Regions from separate parts of the Homo sapiens genome. Here region 2 is linked to region 1. The links come from fine-mapping of genetic effects on gene expression. A gene starts in region 1. The other region holds a variant in brackets. All regions are shown on one strand. Distances are between the middles of the regions.

Region 1 (5,366 bases):
GAGACAGGGTCTGGCTCTGTCACCCATGCTGGAGTGCAATGGTGCAACCTCAGCTCATTGCAGCCTCCACCTCCTGGGCTCAAGTGATCCTCCCACCTCAGCCTCCTGAGTAGCTGGGACTACAGGCATGCACCACCATGCCTGGCTAAATTTTTTTTTTTTTTTTTGGTAGAGATGAGGTTTCACCACGTTGCCCAGGCTGGTCTTGAACTCCTGGGCTCAAGCCATCTGCCTGCCTCAGCCTCCCAAAGTGCTGCCCAGCCATACTTTTTCATTTAAGAGATAATCGATAGCAAATGAAATAATACAAGTTAAGTGCTTAGAACAATGACTACTATTTTTAACGTATCACGGGCAGCTTCCTTAATTGGTATATGCAGATATGCTTTTATTATTGTTTCAAGCTGAGGGCAGGGAAGTCCCTGAAGAAACTTTGTCTTGAAAAAATGGGTTAAATTGGCCGGGCGCAGTGGCTCACACCTGTAATCCCAACACTTTGGGACGCCAAGGCGGGGGGATCATGAGGTCAGGAGTTCAAGACCAGCCTGACCAATATGGTGAAACCCCGTCTCTACTACAAATACAAAAATTAGCTGGGCGCGGTGGCAGGTGCCTGTAATTTCAGCTACTCAGGAGGCTGAGGCTGGAGAATCGCTTGAACCTGGGTGGCAGTGAGACGAGATCATGCCACTGCACTCAAGCCTGGGTGACAGAGTGAGACTTCTGTCTTAAAAAAAAAAAAAAAAAGGGTTATATGTGCCCTCCCTTGAGGTAGGGGCGGTTGATTTCACAGAAATCAAATGGAAAAGGCATACTGTTGTGGGAGCTAATAACACATCCTTCCTTCGATAATGCTGATTGGTGGCATCCAATCATCTAAGGTAGCGATGGGGCCTGGACCAGGGCTGAGGGAGGCCCGCCCAGTACCTGGTCCAGGCCTGGGACTCCTGAGCACTGCCAGCCAAGGCCTCTCCTGCCTAACCGGACCCGCCTCCTCGGAGAGTGGGGGAGGTGCCGCTCAAGCCTGATGCTGATCTCTTTTGACAGCTGCTTCTAAGGCTGGCAGGATGGTAGGCAGTGGGGGAAGGGACCAGATTTAAAGGTCCAGTTGCTCCGCCCCCTGCCAGACCTGGGCAGGCAGGCGCGGGTGAGCATCCTCTGAGAGCTTGGGTCTTGCGTATGTGGAAGGTCAGAGACCCCTCTACCCTAGTTTCCACTTCTTGGTGTCATGAAGACCACTGGTCTTCACGTCCGCTCCCACCCTACAGGCCGCCAGGGAGACCAGTGCCGCCCACCATGCGATTTCGACGCTTGACCCCTGGTTACTTCCGGGTGTTACAGGTAAGTACCCCTGATCAACGGTTTCTGGCACGACTGACCCCTTCCTCCCCCTACCATAGCTGGGTTGACACCCCCAACAGCCAGGCTGTCACGTTCCCTGCCGCCTGAGCAGGCAGGCCCAGATGGGCAGTGAGGCGAAAGGGATTGGGGTGGAATCTCCCTGGGGCAGGACCGGCGTCCATGTCTCCTTCCCCTAGCTACATCTACTCAGCCCTTTCCCACTCCCCACCTTCCTGGCAGTCTCAACTGACCCCTGAGGCACACCCTCTGTGCACCTCCAGATGCAGGTAGCTGGTGAGCTGAAGGCAGAGCCCCGGAGTCTGCTGGCAGGAGTTGTGGCTACAGTGCTAGCTGTCCTCGGCCTGGGTGGCTCCTGCTATGCCGTCTGGAAGATGGTGGGGCAGCGGCGGGTGCCACGGGCCCCGTAACGAAGAAGAGAGACTCTCACTTGGATGCTGGGGGTAGGTGACTCGGGAGGGGGGTGCAATCTCAGAAGCCTTCTTTTCTGGGGATCAGTCTCTGTCAGAAGCAGGACAGAGTAATCTGATCCCACTCCCGCCACCCCACACTGCATCAGGCCTCCATCTGGGTGCTCCAGTTCAGATGCTAGGACCTCAGAGGGAAGGCAGAGATAGACCAAGTGGGGAGTAGACACCCTAGGCCTGGTGTACAGAAAGTAGTAGAGAAGCCCTTCCAGGGCAGGAGTTTGAGACAGCGGCCTGGAAGTTAGAGTTGGAGGCAAGTTCTCTTTGTCCAGTTCCTTTATTTGGGGCAGGGCACCAAGAAGAGGCCCTCCGCTCCCCAAACCCAGAGGCAAAAGGGGTTGGCACGCTCCCTCCCAGCCTAGTCCTTGCGTCACTGTCCATGGGCAATTCCTCTGCCCTGCATCTTCAGGCCATGTCAGGTAGAGGTATCCATCTCAGGGACCTCAGTGGACACTTCCGTGGGCACTGCCAGCCGCCTGGGGGGCACATAGGATCCCATACCCGCTGCCCTCTCCGCCTCTTCCTGACTGTAGGGCTCGACGCTCAGCTGCTTCAGCCTGGGAGAAAGAAAAACAGGAGTTGGGAGCTGACCAGGTGAGAGCCCTATCTGCTGAGCACCCATCCATCAATCCTCTCCTTACTCCTTCATACCTTTTCTTGTGGTCTTTGGATCGGAAGTGGGTCTTCAGGTTGGTGGAATCGATGAAGTACCTCCTGTAGGAATGGAAGTGAGAAGGAGAGTGAGGAGGTGATAGTCTCCCAAGTGCACCTATCTCCCTAGCCCTAGCTTGTCCCTGACGCCAGGATCCGGGTCTGAGAAACGGGAGGCGGGCGGACCCACGGGTCCCAAGAGAGAAGACTCTGCGCTGCCTGGGGCTTCAACTTCACATCTCCCGGCCGGTACCGCGGACCCTCCTCCGCCCCAGGCCGGGCTCGTCCGGGACTCACGCGCAGGCCAGACAGCGGTGCAGACCGCCCCCTGGCAGGTCGGGGTCGAACTCGGCGTTTGGGTCGGGCTGGGGTCGTGCGGATCCCTGAGGCCGCAGCTCGCGGTGAATCTCATCCAAGTCCGGCCGCCGCCGCTTCGCCTTCATCTGCCGGGCTAGAGAGTGCGCTCGGTGCGCGCCTGTCCGGCGGGAGCGACCCATGGCCAGAAACAGCCCGGCCGGCCAAGGGGCCAGGAGCAGGGCAGGGAGCACACGTGTGAGCACTTCCGGGCCGATCAGCTACGTCAGGCCACGCCGGGGGGCTAGGCAGGCTCGGCCGGACCGCCTCTGATGACGTCACTCTCGGCCAGCGGCTCGAGCGCCGCCAGGCGGCCGTCGACGTCAGTGACCGAGCTCAGGACGGGCTCCCAGAAGTGTGCCCACTGAAGGGCATGGCCCCGCGGGCCCTCGCTGGGGAGGCGCGGGGTGGTGCGTGCGCCTGGGGGTTTCGGGGCCGTCTTGCTGCCCTGCTCTTCCTGGCCTGGTCCAACCAGTATCAGTGCCAACCTGTACTCCTGTCATCCCTTCCTGTTTCCCAGACCTTGGACTCCGCGGTGGGGGTGGGATGCTTTATCTCTGGAAAGCACTGATAAATGTCTGTGTCATGAATAAATTAGTAAATGACTGAGAGTGAATAAGTTTGGAATCCCAGCCCCACCAGGGCTTCCCGAGATAATCTCCAGTCCCTGAAAAAGCCCTCACTTCTCCGGGCTCCCGTTATTCCCTTGAGTCTCCATCCTCTCTCTGACCCCAACCAAATCCGTGAAGGGTGTTCCTCCCCAGAGAGTGCAGTCCTCAGGCATCCAGACTCCAGAGGGATCAGTTCCTCTCACAAGTACTCATAGAAGGACCTCTCCATCTTTGCCTCCTTTCTCTAAGCCCTGGGCTCCCAGAGGTGGGCTGGCAGCAAAGGCCTAGGTGTTGCATGCTCAGAGTGGCTAGAGGGCCTTTCCCCATTCACAGGAGCCTGGTGCCTCCCAGGCTGGCCAGAGCCAACTCAGCTGGAAGGGGCCAGAGGAGCTTAGCAATAATTCAGGGGCTCCAGCTCTTTGGAGTCTGTTGCCAGGAAACAAGGAGACAGGCACGTGTATCCCTGGGGAGAGGAATCAGTTTCCAGCCCAGACAAAGGAGTGAAATGTAAGCCCAAGGTGCCCACTGGGGGCCTGCGGACCTTCCTGCTCCAGTTCATTGAGGCTAAGTAGGGACACAGGGTGGAGCCCTGCTGAGGACACAACTAGTATGACTACAGTCACAGGGGCTCCAGTGTGGGTCCCAGACCTCAGGATTTTGTGAATGGAAGAAGATTTTCCTGGAGGCATGCTAAGAGATGAACAACTCAAGTACTCCTAGGCCCAGGAAGAAAGCCTCTCTAGAGACAAATGACTTCATTATTCTTGGCCAATATGGGTCAAGACAAGGGGCTAAGGTGGCAGAAGCTTGTTCCATCCCCCACTCCCCGACTCCTTTGGATCAGGTTCACCTCCTGGGCACTGTGCCAGCTGGGGAGGCTGGTGCATCTTTAATGAAGTCACTGGATCCCTCGGACAGGCTCTTGGCCTCACCAAGTTCCTAGAGCCAGACTCACTGGTATCCACTGAGCCACCACCTTCCTGTGCTTGCGTGCCAGGCCCCTTCCCCCTGCAGCCATGAACCAGGCCTTCTGGAAAACCTACAAGTCCAAAGTGCTACAGACCCTGAGTGGGGAATCTGAAGAAGACCTGGCAGAGGAGGTGGGTGCCATCCATGCATGGTGGGTGGAGCATGTGCAGAGGGGCAGCAGGAATGAGCAGTATGAAGTGGGGCACAGGATAGGCTTGGAGGTGGGGGGGCCACATTTGTGCAGATGCCACATTCAGGGATGGTAAAAACCATGGTGCAGCATCAGAAAGCCAGGACATTCAAGAAAACTGAGGAAGAAAAGACTTAGGGACCATGGGAGGAGTGGCCACTGTCTCCAAAGATCTCGAGGCTGCCACATGGAAGAGATTCTTCTAGGACCAGTGGGCAGTAGGCACACGGGCACACTTAGCTGGACACAACTTTCTAATGGGAGCAGAAGTAGGAGTGATGTAGTGAGCCCCATGTTACTAGAGGTAGGGGGAGTGGCGCCTGTACTAGAAAGGTCACTGCAGCAGCATCAGATCAAAGCCATACTTAGACCATGCTTTGTTCTGACATTACAAAAAACAAGCAAACAAACAACAACAACAAAAAACAGGCTGGGCCGGGCACGGTGGCTCATGCCTGTAATCCTAGCACTTTGGGAGGCCGAGGTGGGTGGATTGCCTGAGCTCAGGAGTTCAAGACCAGCCTGGGCAACACGGTGAAACCCAGTCTCTATTAAAATACAAAAAAAAGTAGCCAGGCATGGCGGCGTGCACCTGTAATCCCAGCCACTTGGGAGGCTGAGGTAGGAGAATTGCTTGAGCCTGGGAGGCAGAGGTTGCAATGAGCTGAGATTGAGCCATTGCACTCCAGCCTGGGCGACAGAGCAAGACTCCATCTCAAAAACAAACAAACAGGCCAGGCGCAGTGGCTTCTGCCTGTAATACTA
Region 2 (5,366 bases), 170 kb before region 1:
AGGCCTTGAAGAATTCCCAGGGTCTGGAGAAGCCCCTGCAGGTGGCATCTGCCACCGTCTCTGCAGGACTGTGAGTCTGGTCTATTCTAGAATCCCCTCATTTGACATTCACTGTGCTGGGTGCTGGGGACACAGAGGTGACAGAACACAGTTCCTGCCTTCAGGAGTGCTCAGTCCACTGGTGGGGACAGGCAAGTAAGCAGACAATAGCAATTCAGTGTTTTGGGGTGAGGGAGCACAGAAAAACACCATACCATGAGAGGCAGAGTGTGGAAGTCAGAGAAACCCTCCTGGAGGAGGAGACACCATGCTGGGATGAGTTGGCCAAGAATCTAAGCTCCATGAGGGCAGAGATTGTGTATGCTTGTTCACCACTGTATCCCTGATGCCTGTAGCAGGGTCTGGCACAGAGCAGATGCTTCTAAATATTTGTCAATTGAATAAATGGGGAAAAGAGTATATCTGGCAGAGGGAATAGCACATGCAAAGGCCCAGAGAGGAGACAGCTAAGCTTCAAATTTTCAGTGTAGCCAGCATAAGCAACAAGTGGGAAGAACTGAGGCCCAGGGAGAAGGAAGAGGCCAGATTGCAGAGCCTCTTTGCATAGCCGGGCTTTATTGTGAGGCTAACAGGGAACTACTGGGGTTATTGAAGCAGTTTTCCATGCATGCTAGAGAAAAATGCTCCAGCTGCTGTGTGAAATTAGAGAAGGCAAAGCCAGAGGAAGGGAGACCAATGTGGCTACTGCAAGAGATTATACGAGACTGATGGGAACCTCCCCAGAAAACCTCCTTTTCCACTCTAAACCTTCCCTCCCGCCCACCAATCTGTGTCCCTTGAAGTCTCTCTGCTAGGGTGCAGCAGCCTCTCTGTTTCCCCTAGGTGGCTACTGTACCCCAAACCATTATTCGAAGACACTCCCTACATCCTGGAACCTGGAGAGTACCCCACCTCAGAGGCCTGGGGCACATCGGACCCCAGCGTGGGCTCCCTGAAGCCCATGAGATTGGTAAAGAACAGGGCACACCCACAGGCCAGGAGGTCTAGGCTCTGCCCCTGGTCCCAAGTAGCTGGTCCTGCAGTCTGTGGGAAGGGATGGGGGATGAAGTGTAAAACAGCACCCCTTGGAGACTGCTTCCTGGGAGCTTCTATTGGGAATGGGAGTGGGAGGAGAGGTAGGGATTAACCTAAGAGGTAGGGGAAAAGGGAAGACATGGGGTTGGGGTTCTCAGGATCAGGAAAATCCTAGATCCGCAGCCCCATCTGTCTTTCCCATCTCTGGGCTGGTGTCTCAGCTCTGTCTCCTCTGCAGGGCTGCCCAAGTGTGGAGAAGCCAGGGGAGCCCAGGGTAAGAGTCTGGGCTTAAGAGCCAAAGAGGGCCTTTGGTGGCGGGGTGCAGGTGTTTGGTTATCGTGGTCTGGACAGGAAATCCAGAGAGGAGGGCACTGGGGGCCAGAAGCACGGTCTGGGGGGATGGGACCTGATGGGCTCACTGGGAACTGGCTTTTGATGTGTAAGAAGGTCAGAGGTCAGAGTAGAGATAGGAATTGGGTAAGGGGATGGAGTTCAGCAAGGAGGTGGGAGGGCTGGGGGGTGCCACATTGGCCTGATGCTGGGCAGAGCCATTCCTGAGCTGGCTGGGTGTGTTTGGGTCCAGATGACTCCTGACAGCCCCTTTCCCCCAGGCTGTGGTGTATGAGGCCCCAGGCTTTCAGGGCCGCAGCTGGGAAGTGAGCCGAGACATCTACAACCTTCAGCAGCCAGAGGACAGCCAGAGCCCCCACCTGGCCTCTGTGGGGTCCCTGAGAGTTCTCGGAGGCTGGTGAGAACTCAGGACCCTTCCTTCTATTTCATCACCTCTGGCCTTTACCCTTGGGAGTGGGGAGTGACCTGGGCTGCGTAGGGGTGGGGACAGCTGTCTCATTCATCCATGGGCCTCCTATGACTGAACCTGCCTGTCTGTCCTCCTGCTTTTCCCAGCTGGGTGGGCTACGAGAAGGAGGGCTTCCGGGGCCACCAGTATCTGCTGGAGGAGGGGGAATACCCAGACTGGTCACACTGGGGAGGCTATGACGAGTTGCTGACCTCCCTCCGGGTCATCCGGACGGTAAGCAAAGGCAATTGGCCCATCCCTCTGCCTCTGGCCACAGCCAGACCTCCCCCAGTACAGTTTGTGGAGGGAAGAATTTGTACCCCCTCTCCGTGTTCTCCCTGTAAGTGTTCCCAGAGGTCTAGCCTCTCTTCCCCTGCTGCTCTTCTCCAGGTCGTACTGACAGCCTCACCCCTAATTCCCCGGGTGGGCTGTGACCCTGGGGTCTGGGCACTCCCAGGGGTTTCGGTTTGTGGGCGGGAGAGACCTGACTGTCCCTGGGGACCCAGGACTTCGGGGACCCGGCCGTCGTGCTATTTGAGGCCATGGACTTCGAGGGGCACGGCGTGGAGGTGAGCAAGGCATTGCCGGATGTGGAGCTGGTGCAACACGGCCCCA[G/A]CACACAGGCCATCCACGTGCTCAGCGGCGTGTAAGTGACCCGGGCTCCGGGAGCGGGGCGGGCCCGGGCGAGCCGGGGGCGGTTCCAGGAGAGGTGCAGGCTCCGTCCCAGCTGACTCGCGCCCCGCCCTTCCTGCAGGTGGGTGGCCTACCAGGAGGTGGGCTTCTCCGGGGAACAGTACGTGCTGGAGAAGGGCGTGTATCGTAACTGCGAGGACTGGGGCGCTGGCAACAGCACCCTCGCCTCGCTGCAGCCGGTCCTACAGGTGCGTGCCGGCCGCGGGGGGCGGGGCCTCCCCGGTGGCGGGACCTGGAGTTCGGGTGCGCCCCGCCCCCACGCAGAGGTAGCGGGCTGGAGGACCTGCCTGGGCGCTTGGGGCGGGGCCTTAGAAGGGGGCGGGGCCGAGGGCGCGGCCGCGGGGTGGACGGTACTGAAACCTAGAGAAGACAAGGCTAGGGGCCGGCACCCTCCCTAATTCTCGATTCGGTCCCTACCTTCAGGTCGGGGAGCACGATCTGCACTTCGTCTCAAAGGTAAGGCAGGGACTCCGCAGGGAGCCGCTGGGCTCACGTCTCTCCCCTCATTTCGGACCTTTCCCCTCCCCGCTGTTCTCGGCCCCACTCCATCGTCCTCCTTCCCCTCATCTCCCCTCTCTGCCTCCAGATTCAGCTTTTCTCCCGCCCCGACTTTCTGGGCGACCACTTCTCTTTCGAAGATGACCAGGCCGCTCTGCCCGCCTCCTTCCGACCTCAGTCCTGCCGGGTCCACGGCGGCAGGTGAGAACGTGGAGGGGCGGAGGGCTGGGGGCGCTGGGGCAGAGGCGGGGCTGCAGGAGGAGAGTCTTTCAAATGATTTCCTTCCTTTGGCTACCTTGCGATGAACTGTTCTGTCTTGCGCAATTTTAAAACAAAATAAGGTTTTAATGGAAAATGTAAAACTGTAGATTGTATAATATAAAGATAAATCTTGTTTCCTCTATCCGTGTGCTCTTTTAAATTTTCGGTGGAGTATTTTAAATCCCTGACCCAACGTAAAATTTCATGGGTACACACTTCAACGTGTGTCTCTAATATGAAAGAACATTTTCCCCACGTAGCTACAAGTCATTATCACATCTAATAAAATTAATAACAATTTATTCATATTACCCAATACCCAGTCCGTGTTCAGATTTCTCCCATTGTCTCAAAAATGCCTTTGTGAAATTAACTTGTTTTTCTCAGCATCCAAATAAGGTCCTTGGGCCAGGTTTCCTCATGTTGGCCAGGCTGATCTCAAACTCCTGGGCTCAAGCTATCCGCCACCTCGGCCTTCCAAAGTGCTGGGATTACAGGCATGAGCCACCGTGCCTGGCCGACCCCAGTAGTTTTTTTTGTATTGTTTTGTTTTGTTTTGAGACAGAGTTTTGCTCTGTTGCCCAGGCTGGAGTGCAGTGGCGCGATCTCAGCTCACCGCAACCTCCGCCTCCCAGGTTCAAGCGATTCTCCTGCCTCAGCCTTCCCAAGTAGCTGGGATTATAGGCATGGGCCACCAAGCCCGGCTAATTTTGTATTTTTAGTAGAGATGGGGTTTCTCCATGTGGATTAGGCTGGTGTTGAATTCCCAACATCAGGTGATCCGCCCACCTCGGCCTCCCAAAGTGCTGGGATTACAGGCGTGAGCCACTGCGCCCGGCGACCCCAGTAGTTTTGATAACTTTCTTGATATAATAAGATGCTCCAGGATCATTTTGTACATTTTTTTTTTTTTTTGCTCCAAATCTAGAATTGGCTATTTGCCAAGGAACCCTGGTTCTTTTTAGTGGCAAATGGTAGAGACCAAAATCTGCATGCTAGGTGTTTCAAAGTTATAATGCCCTTATTACAACTAATAGTAAAAACCACTGAATGCTGTTGGGAGTTTCCTGTTTTTTGTTTGTTTGTTTGTTTGTTTTGTTTGTTTGTTTTTTTGAGATGGAGTCTCGCTCTGTCGCCCAGACTGGAGTGCAGTGGCACTGTCTCAGCTCACTGCAGCCTCTGCCTCCCGGTTCAAGCAATTCTCCTGCTTCAGCCGCCTGAGTAGCTGGGATTACAGGCACCCGCCACCACGCCCAGCTAATTTTTGTATTTTTAGTAGAGATGGGGTTTCATGATGTTGGTCAGGCTGGTCTCAAACTCTTGACCTCATGATCCGCCCCCCTCGGCCTCCCAAAGTGCTGGGATTACAGGCATGAGCCACCGTGCCTGGCTTCTTGTGGTTCTTTTTGTCCTCAAGATATTCACCTATAACCTATTTGTTATATATTCGTTCAAATTACCGTGTCTTAAACACATTTGAAATAATACTTTTGTGTGTGTGGTTATGTCACCAACCTAATATACAATTAGGTTCATTAATTTAATTTATTTTCAGTTTTAAGGAATATTTTTCATTTTTATCTATTTCTGGATTTGTTTTTGTTTTTGTTTGAGACAGGGTCTCACTTTCTTATTCAGGCTGGAGTGCAGTGGTGTGAACACAGCTCAGTGCAGCCTTGACCTCCTGGGCTCAAGGGATTCTCCTACTTCAGCCTCCTGAGACCTGGGACCATAGGTGCACGCCACCGCGCCCGGCTAATTTTTTAACTTTTTTGTAGAGATGGGGGTCTCACTTTGTTACTTAGGCTGGTTTCAAACTTCTGGGCTCAAGCAATCCTCCCTTCTTGGTCTCCCAAAGTGTTGGGATTACAGGTGTGAGCCACTGCACCTGGCCCTAGTTCTGTTTTCCTATGAATAATTACCATGAAGCTGGGCACAGTGGCTCATGCCTGTAATCCCAGCACTTTGGGAGGCTGAGGCAGGAGTCCAGGAGTTCAAGAATCACCTGGGCAACATAAGGAGACCCTGTCTTGACAAAAAA

Evidence for each region. PIP is the estimated chance that this variant, and not a neighbour inherited with it, causes the effect. A credible set is the group of variants that fine-mapping cannot tell apart.
Region 2: its variant is the best candidate, but not a certain one, in a credible set for the expression of ZNF593 in whole blood (INTERVAL, PIP 0.77).

Annotation. Positions count from the first base shown.
Region 1 is chr1:26,167,592-26,172,957 of GRCh38, reverse strand. It overlaps ZNF593 (zinc finger protein 593), which reads right to left and starts at 3,050. Exons shown (of 3, transcript NM_015871.5): 1 at 2,775-3,050; 2 at 2,478-2,540; 3 at 2,085-2,383. The coding sequence starts at 2,974. The coding sequence ends at 2,242. C1orf232 (chromosome 1 open reading frame 230) reads left to right here and starts at 3,995. Exons shown (of 4, transcript NM_001364669.2): 1 at 3,995-4,542. The coding sequence starts at 4,459. ZNF593OS (ZNF593 opposite strand) reads left to right here and starts at 1,126. Exons shown (of 4, transcript NM_001395468.1): 1 at 1,126-1,188; 2 at 1,269-1,341; 3 at 1,623-1,802; 4 at 2,360-3,437. The coding sequence starts at 1,297. The coding sequence ends at 1,769. RefSeq lists an enhancer at 3,181-3,280 and a silencer at 4,514-4,669.
Region 2 is chr1:26,333,994-26,339,359 of GRCh38, reverse strand. It overlaps CRYBG2 (crystallin beta-gamma domain containing 2), which reads left to right. Exons shown (of 20, transcript NM_001039775.4): 6 at 1-70; 7 at 883-1,009; 8 at 1,313-1,348; 9 at 1,686-1,822; 10 at 1,981-2,107; 11 at 2,380-2,519; 12 at 2,628-2,754; 13 at 2,990-3,022; 14 at 3,153-3,265. Among named protein-coding and RNA genes, the nearest start is that of CRYBG2, 17 kb to the left of the region's middle. RefSeq lists an enhancer at 2,393-2,452 and a silencer at 2,593-2,972. The variant G/A (reference allele first, on the strand shown) is at 2,489.